2 linked regions of the Homo sapiens genome follow. The protein of the gene in region 1 purifies or fractionates together with the protein of each later gene. This does not show direct contact. Each region holds a gene or a part of one and is shown in the gene's direction. Other genes may lie near its edges.

The links.
Region 2: the proteins of ZNFX1 (region 1) and AMZ2 purify together in Homo sapiens (affinity purification with mass spectrometry; one large-scale study listed by BioGRID and IntAct). This does not show direct contact.

The regions. Positions count from the first base shown.
Region 1 is NC_000020.11:49,260,552-49,264,871, reverse strand, and holds part of ZNFX1 (NFX1-type zinc finger-containing protein 1), read left to right. Parts: intron 1-7; coding exon 8-156; intron 157-1,388; coding exon 1,389-1,538; intron 1,539-4,294; coding exon 4,295-4,320.
Region 2 is NC_000017.11:68,253,939-68,257,655, forward strand, and holds the end of AMZ2 (archaemetzincin-2), read left to right. Parts: intron 1-465; coding exon 466-629; intron 630-1,761; coding exon 1,762-1,938; intron 1,939-2,875; coding exon 2,876-3,031; 3' UTR 3,032-3,217; downstream 3,218-3,717. UniProt on the Homo sapiens protein: Probable zinc metalloprotease.

The DNA.
Region 1 (4,320 bases):
TCCACAGGCATCTACAATTGTCAGAAGACCAGCATTGTGCGGGTGGGTGGAAGGAGCAACAGTGAAATCCTGAAGCAGTTCACCCTAAGGGAGCTGAGGAACAAGCGGGAATTCCGCCGCAACCTCCCCATGCACCTCCGAAGGGCCTACATGAGTGTAAGTCCCAGCTCTGAAATATCTGGGGTAGTTCAAGAGGGACCTAAACAAGATAGCAGTGGCTTTCTGGGTAGGCAGCCCAGGGTAGATTTGGAGGCTCCTCAAAGCTCTGGAGGACCCAGGTTCCTTTCAGCATTCTATTCTGCCAATCCCTTGGTATGACCTTTGCCTTCACAATCCAAGATGGAGAAAAGACAAGGAAACACTGCCCATCCCCACCCTACCTTAACGCTCCTTCCCCCATACCACCCACAGCACCTCTGTGTACAGCCAACTGACCAGGGAAATGTCATCTTTTAGCTGGGCAGCAATGTGCCCAGTCAAAAATCTGAGTTCTTATTACTAAGGAAAAGAGAGAGAACAGATATTGTGAGCCTTGAAGTCTCTCCCACAGTATTCTTGGCCTGTTTGTTTTTCTGTTGTGTAGGTTGAGCATCTCAAATTGGAAAATCCAAATCCAAAACTTTCTGAGTGCCAACATTATTTCTTTTTTTGAGACAGGGTCTTGCTCAGTCACCCAGGCTGGAGTGCAGTGGCACAATCTCGGCTCACTGCAACCTCCACCTCCTAGGTTCAAGCGATTCTCTTGCCTCAGCCTCCTGAGTAGCTGGGATTACAGGCGCCCGCCATCACACCTGGCTAATTTTTGTATTTTTAGTAGAGACAAGATTTCACCATGTTGGCCAGGCTGGTCTCGATCTCTTGACCTCATGGTCCACCCGCCTCGGCCTCCCAAAGTGCTGGGATTACAGGCGTGAGCCACCGCGCCCGGCCCAACATTATTTCACATTTTGGATTTCCAGATTTGCAATGCTCAACCAGTAAGTATAAACGCAAATATTCCAAAATCTGAAACACTTCTAGTCCCAAGCATTTTGGATAAGGGATATTCAACCTGCCACCACGCCTGGCTAATTTTTGCATTTTTAGTAGAGACAGTGTTTTGCCATGTTGGCCAGGCTGGTCTTGAACTACAGACCTCAAGTGATCCACCTGCCTTGGCCTCCTAAAATGCTGGTATTACAGGCATGAGCCACCACACTCAACCGATACTAGTTCTTTGGTTTCAAGACCACAATAATGTGCCTTGGGAAATTGGTTTGTTGACCAGTCTATTTATTTATTCTCCCTCCTTACTGTTCCTGTCTTAGCTTTGCTTTCCCTCAAGGTGAGGACTGAGTTTGGGGGATGATGATATTTCCTCATCATTTCTTTCCCTCTGTTCTTGGAAGATCATGACACAGATGAAGGAGTCAGAGCAAGAGCTTCATGAAGGAGCCAAGACCCTGGAGTGCACCATGCGTGGTGTCCTACGGGAACAGTACCTGCAGAAGTACATCTCACCCCAGCACTGGGAAAGTCTCATGAATGGACCAGTGCAGGTAGGGGTCATCCTGGGGGACACAAATATGTCTCTGGCCTCAGTACTTTGAGGTAGCCTCCAGGAGAAGCATCAGTCCAAAACTTTACCTGTTTGATAATCTGATGCTGCCACAATGTGTAAAGTTCCCTTTTGTGATGAGAGGCAGCTGAATATGCTGGTCAGGAACAAAACTCGAACCAGCCTGTTGGGTTTTAGTCTGAGCTTGGCTCTGGACAAGTTACTTAATTTTCTGTGGCTGTTTCCCCTTTTATAAAATGGGGATAATAATAAGCATTAAGTTGAACCATATGAAATTGCCAACATCTGTAATATTGATTTGCAAAAAAGGCAATTTCTTACAGATCTTTGTTCTTACAGGATTGTTATTTAGATGAGCAAGGTGATATTTGTAAACTTATTAATTTAGTAACTGTACTATAAGTGTTTGTTAAATGAAATGAAGAAAATCATAACCAGAGGCAAACTAGCACAGATAGAGAACTTGGGAGTTGATAGATATAGTCATGCAGACTGACTGTGTGACTTGGGTTCATGTGATCCTCAGCAATCAAACATGGATAATAATAATGCCTACCTTCAAAAGATATGGTAAGAAATAACTGAGACAGTCTCTGTAAAGTGGCAGGCTAGGAACCCAGTGAAATGGTAGCTTTGTTACCATTAGGTTGCTGATTTACAGGATTACAAACCAAAAGCTTACAGAGGTCATTCAGGTCTTACAAATAAGTGAAGCAATCTAGATTTGAAATATTAAGAAGCGGAGAGGACTGTGGCAAACTAGAACAGATGTGGTAGCAACCCAGCTCCAGCCATTTGTTGCCATTCAGTAATAAACAGTCATTGCTGCCATAGCTCCTGATTTTGTCAAAATAGGCTGGAAAATTTTTTTAATTCTTTTTTTTTTTTCTTCTTTTTTTTTTTTTTGAGACAGAGTTCTCACTCTCTCACCCCAGGCTGCAGTGCAATGGCGCGATCTTGGCTTACTACAACCTCCGCCTCCCGGGTTCAAGCGATTCTCTTACCTTGGCCTCTTGAGTAGCTAGGATTACAGGCACCTGCCATCATGCCTGGCTAATTTTTGTAGAGACAGGGTTTCACCACATTCGCCAGGCTGGTCTTGAACTCCTGACCTCAGGTGACCCGCCCACCTCGGCTCTCCAAAGTGCTGGGATTATAGGCATGAGCCACCGTGCCCAGCCCTTTGATTTTTAAAATTCTATACAAGTCATGTTAAATGTTCCAGTTGCCCAAGGAGATGCCAGTTCACAGCCTCTGAACTTTTTTTTTTTTTAACAATATGATGTTTCTTTTTTAATTTTTTTTTTAACTTTTAAGTTCAGGGGTACGTGTGCAGGTTTGTTACGTAGGTAAACTTGTGTCATGAGGCCAAGCGCGCAGTGGCTCACGCCTGTAATCCCAGCACTTTGGGAGGCCGAGGCAGGCGGATCACGAGGTCAGGAGATTGAGACCATCCTGGCTAACACGCTGAAACCCCGTCTCTACTAAAAAAATAAAAAAATTAGCCGGGCATGGTGGCGGGCGCCTGTAGTCCCAGCTACTCAGGAGGCTGAGGCAGGAGAATGGTGTGAACCTGGGAGGCAGAGCTTGCAGTGAGCCGAGATCGTGCCACTGCACTCCAGCCTGGGCGACAGAGCAAGACTGTCTCAAAAAAAAAAAAAAAAACTTGTGTCATGGCGGTTTGTTGTACATCACCTAGATATTAAGCCTAGTACTCATCAGTTATTTTTCCTGCTCCTCTCCCTCCTCCCATCCTCCACCCTTCAATAGGCCCCAGTGTGTTGATCCCCTCTATGTGACCATGTGTTCTCATCATTTAACTTATAAGTGAGAACATGCAGTATTTGGTTTTCTGTTCTTGTGTTAGTTTGCTAAAGATAATGCCCTCAAACTCCATTCAGGTCCTCGCAAAGGACATGATCTCATTCTTTTTTATGGCTGCATAGTATTCCATGGTATATATGTACCACGTTTTCTTTATCCAGTCCTTCATTGATGCGCATTTAGGTTGATTAGATGTCTTTGCTGTTGTGAATAGTACAGCCTATAAACTTTAAGGGAATTACTTTTGATTCTTTTTTCTTTTGAGATAGGGTCTTGAGCCCAGGCTGGAGGGCAGTGGCATAATCATAGCTCACTGCAGCCTCGGCCTCCTGGGCTCAAGCAGTCCTCCCACCTCAGCCTCCTGGGTAACTGGGATTATATGTGCATGCCATCACACCCAGCTTTTTTGAGACAGAATCTTGCTTTTGTCACCCAGGCCGGAGTGTAGTGGCACAATCTCCACTCACTGCAACCTCTGCCTCCCGGGTTCAAGCAGTTCTTCTGCCTCAACCTCCTGAGTAGCTGGGACTACAGGCATGCACCACTATGCCTGGCTAATTTTTGTAGTTTTAATAAAGACAGGGTTTCACCATGTTGGCCAGGCTGGTCTCAAACTCGTGACCTCAGGTGATCCGCCTGCCTCAGCCTCCCAAAGTGTTGGGATTACAGGCGCAAGCCACCACGCCCAGTCTTTTTTTTTTCTCTCTTTTTAAAGACATAGGGTCTCACCGTATTGCCCAGGCTGGTCTTGAATTTCTGGGCTCAGGCAGTCTTCCTGCCTTGGCCTTCCAAATTGCTGGGATTACAGGCATGAGCTACCATGCCCCAATCTGCTTTTGATTCTTTGAGGAGACCCAGCCTTCACATTGGTTGTCATAGAATCCTCACAAATGATCATTCTTCTTTCCTTAGGATAGTGAATGGATTTGCTTCCAGCA
Region 2 (3,717 bases), on another chromosome or scaffold:
TTCACCATGTTAGCCAGGCTGGTCTTGAGCTTCTGACATCAGGTGATCCACCTGCCTCGGCCTCCCAAAGTCCTAGGATTACAATCGTGAGCCACCACGCCCAACCCATGTGGTTATTTTTTATGATTCCTTTTTGAGTACTTGATTTGGAGTACTTGCTACTTTCAGAAAAAGACTTCTTTTGTGGGAAAAGACTCTCTGAAACTTCAGTTTCTCAAGCATTTGACCTCAAGTCCATTAAGTTTTACAAGGCAAGGCAAAGTGGATAGCAGCAAAAGATTTTGATAGGGAAATCTGGGGCAAAAGTCTTCCTTTTTGGTGGCAAACCATAAGTGTATCAGATGGTGTGGACACAGTGACACAGAGATGCACTCACTGGCCAGATGGGCCAGCAGTCTCTTCTTTCTTTGGTCTTTCTTCAGGGACCTTACTCTCATTCTGTCACTGTTTGTCCTTTTTTTGTAGGTGTGGGGATATTCAGCTTTGCCAGGTATGGCAGTGATTTTTATAGCATGCACTATAAAGGCAAAGTGAAGAAGCTCAAGAAAACATCTTCAAGTGACTATTCAATTTTCGACAACTATTATATTCCAGAAATAACTAGTGTTTTACTACTTCGATCCTGTAAGGTAAGTTATTACAAAAATCTGACAGGACAGTTCTTTAAAAGAGATCTTAGTTCCGTAAACTGTATATTGTCAGTCCGTAAGGTAATATTATAAATGAGTTTGTATCATTTGTATAATTTTGGTGCATAGTGCTTGACTGAAATGATCAGTAAAACAATTTAAATGGATACCTTCATATTGAAATTTACAATATCAGTGCCAGTTTTTCTGTACTACTAGTTACAGCCTTGGCTGTACCCATGTGCTATTAGTGTAATTCTGAATTCTGGTATGAGTGGGTAACCTACTTTTTCAAGCTACTGTGGTCATTGGGCAAAGCTGCTTTCCCCAGGCCTTTGGAGAACCTCTGCTCTGGCCTCTCTGGGAGCCTGGGCCTTCCTGCCCTGGGCTCCAGGTTACCCTCGACTGTAGTTGTCCTGGCAGTTCCTGATATCCCCAACTCGGTTTTGTGGAAAGCCTATCTCCCCTTTCTCCATAGCCAGAGAGATGGGCTTTTCCTTCAGCTAGAGAAATTCTGCTTTTACCTGTACTATTTGTTGGGGTTTGACAGCTACACCTCTGAGAACTACATTCTCACAGTGTGTTTCATGGGCCCCCTGTGTCATTGCCACCTGATGTTCTCATTAGCATGCAGATCAAGCCCCCTTTCTCCCAGACCTACTGAAATCAGCATCTCTAGGGGAAGAGCCCCAGAATCAGAATTACAACAAGTACCCTAGTGTAGATCAAGGGTTCTCAGCCAGGGGTGATTTTGCCATCCAGGGAATATTAGCAACGTCTGGAGACATTTTTGATTTTCACAATCAGGGAGGGAGTTCTGTTGGCCTCTAGTGGGTAGAGCCAGGGATGCTGCAAAGCATCGCACAGTGCACAGGACAGCCTCCCACAACCTGGTATTATCGGTCCAACATGTCAGCGATGTTGAGGTTGAGGAAGTCTATAGCAAGAAAGGCAGTAAGACATTTGGGGAAATGAGGGATTATTAAGTCTTTGAAGGTCTGGACAGGGTGAAGTTTTGGTGGTAATGGTAAGGGAGTTGATTCCTATGTTTCTTGGAAAAGCAAGAAAAAGAAGAGACGTGTAGCCTAATGTGATGGTGGTCTTATAAAGCCTCAACATGATTGTCTTGCAGACTTTAACCCATGAGATCGGACACATATTTGGACTGCGACACTGCCAGTGGCTTGCATGCCTCATGCAAGGCTCCAACCACTTGGAAGAAGCTGACCGGCGCCCTCTAAACCTTTGCCCTATCTGTTTGCACAAGTTGCAGTGTGCTGTTGGCTTCAGCATTGTAGAAAGATACAAAGTAAGTTGGGGGGTGGACAGTCTAAAGAGGGGGAAGTGGTTATCTGAGTAGCAAACCCATGTTTCTATTATATCCTTCTCTGGAGTTATAATTTATCAGAGGAAATTAGTGTAAAGATAAGCAGGAAGCTGCGGTTTAAAAATGTGAAGAAATGCTCTTCTTAAAAACTTCAGCTTGCCTTTGAGTGATTTATGCTTACAGTTCAATGAGAAATAGTGGAAGAAGTTTCTTTGCTTCTCTTCCATTTAGGGCAAGAGAGCTTGACTTTGCAGAACAGAATAAATATTGATATGTGTGGCAGAGTTCATTTTTTAAACCCTATAAGTGTGTGGACAGGATTTACCTTTCCAAATATGGGACAGAGGTATGATGTTCATTAGGAGGAAAAAAATGATTTTCTTTAAAAAGGAAGAAGGAAAGTACCTAATCTCAGTATGTGTGTGTGTGTGCCCACACTTGCCCACAAACATCAATATACATTCATGTGTCTACTCATGGGTATGACTGCATTCAGGTGACTGCACAGAAATGTCTACACATGTGTTTTCACATACATATGTCTACCCATGCCTGTGTGGACACTTATATATGTATATACGTACATGTCAAAGTAATATAATGCCTTGTGGAATATTTAGCAAGTTGAGAAAAAATAACATCCTATTATGCTAGAAACAAAGTGTAAGAATGAGTGTATTTCTTTTTCATCTTTTTTCAGTGCGTACTTTTGACATCATTTGTAATTCTGTGTGTATTTGGTACGTGCCATTTCACTCAGTATATCATTAGCATTATTTCATATTCACACCATCATTATCAAATGCAGCGTCTTCATGGGGTAATATGTCACCCTATGATCTAGAAGCCAATGCTTCTCTCTTGCCTGATGGTATTTTGCTGTGGTTTGTTGAAGTGCGCATCTTTCATGTTTTTCCAGGCACTGGTGAGGTGGATTGATGATGAATCTTCTGACACACCTGGAGCAACTCCAGAACACAGTCACGAGGATAATGGGAATTTACCGAAACCCGTGGAAGCCTTTAAGGAATGGAAAGAGTGGATAATAAAATGCCTGGCTGTTCTCCAAAAATGAGGACCTTCAAATAGGAGTGATTGAAATAAATAACTACTTGCATGTTATGCTTTCATTTGGGTGGAATACTTCATTGGAATAAACTACTGATCTTGTGCTGTGTCAAAGTAACAGACTAGAACCTTCTTTCAAGTACCTGAATTGAAATGAAACTCATTTTGAATAATAAAAACTCTAGAAACTCTTTATCTTCTCATCTTACTGGCCTGGTCTGTGGCAGCAAGCACATTATTTCCATTCCCCAAATATGTTTAGGTCTCCCAAGAAAGCTGGGACTGGCGGTAACGAGCAAGTAAATAACTTGAAAAAGAACCGTTCAATGCCCCAAGGAACCAACCAACATAATTTCCAGGGGGTGATTTTGTTTTTAGAAGAGCCGCTCCCCTCTTTTAGGCCCAGCCAAGTCACATTTTTGGACGTCCGTGGGCTCTGATCACCACAGCCCTCCTTTTCCGAGAGCCTACCTTACTGTCTCAAGTGCATTACCTTGTTTTTTTCTCTTGCTGGTTGTCACCTTATCCCTGAAAGAATGAACAGCTTGTATCAGTTTTTAGCAGCTTAAAATATGACCTATCAGGAATATTTGCAAGTGAAAATAACAATGGTCCTTACACTACCACAACATTTGGTGGTGGGAGTTCCGCTGCAGGTCTCAGCTATAACATAGTCATTTATGAGGGATCTTA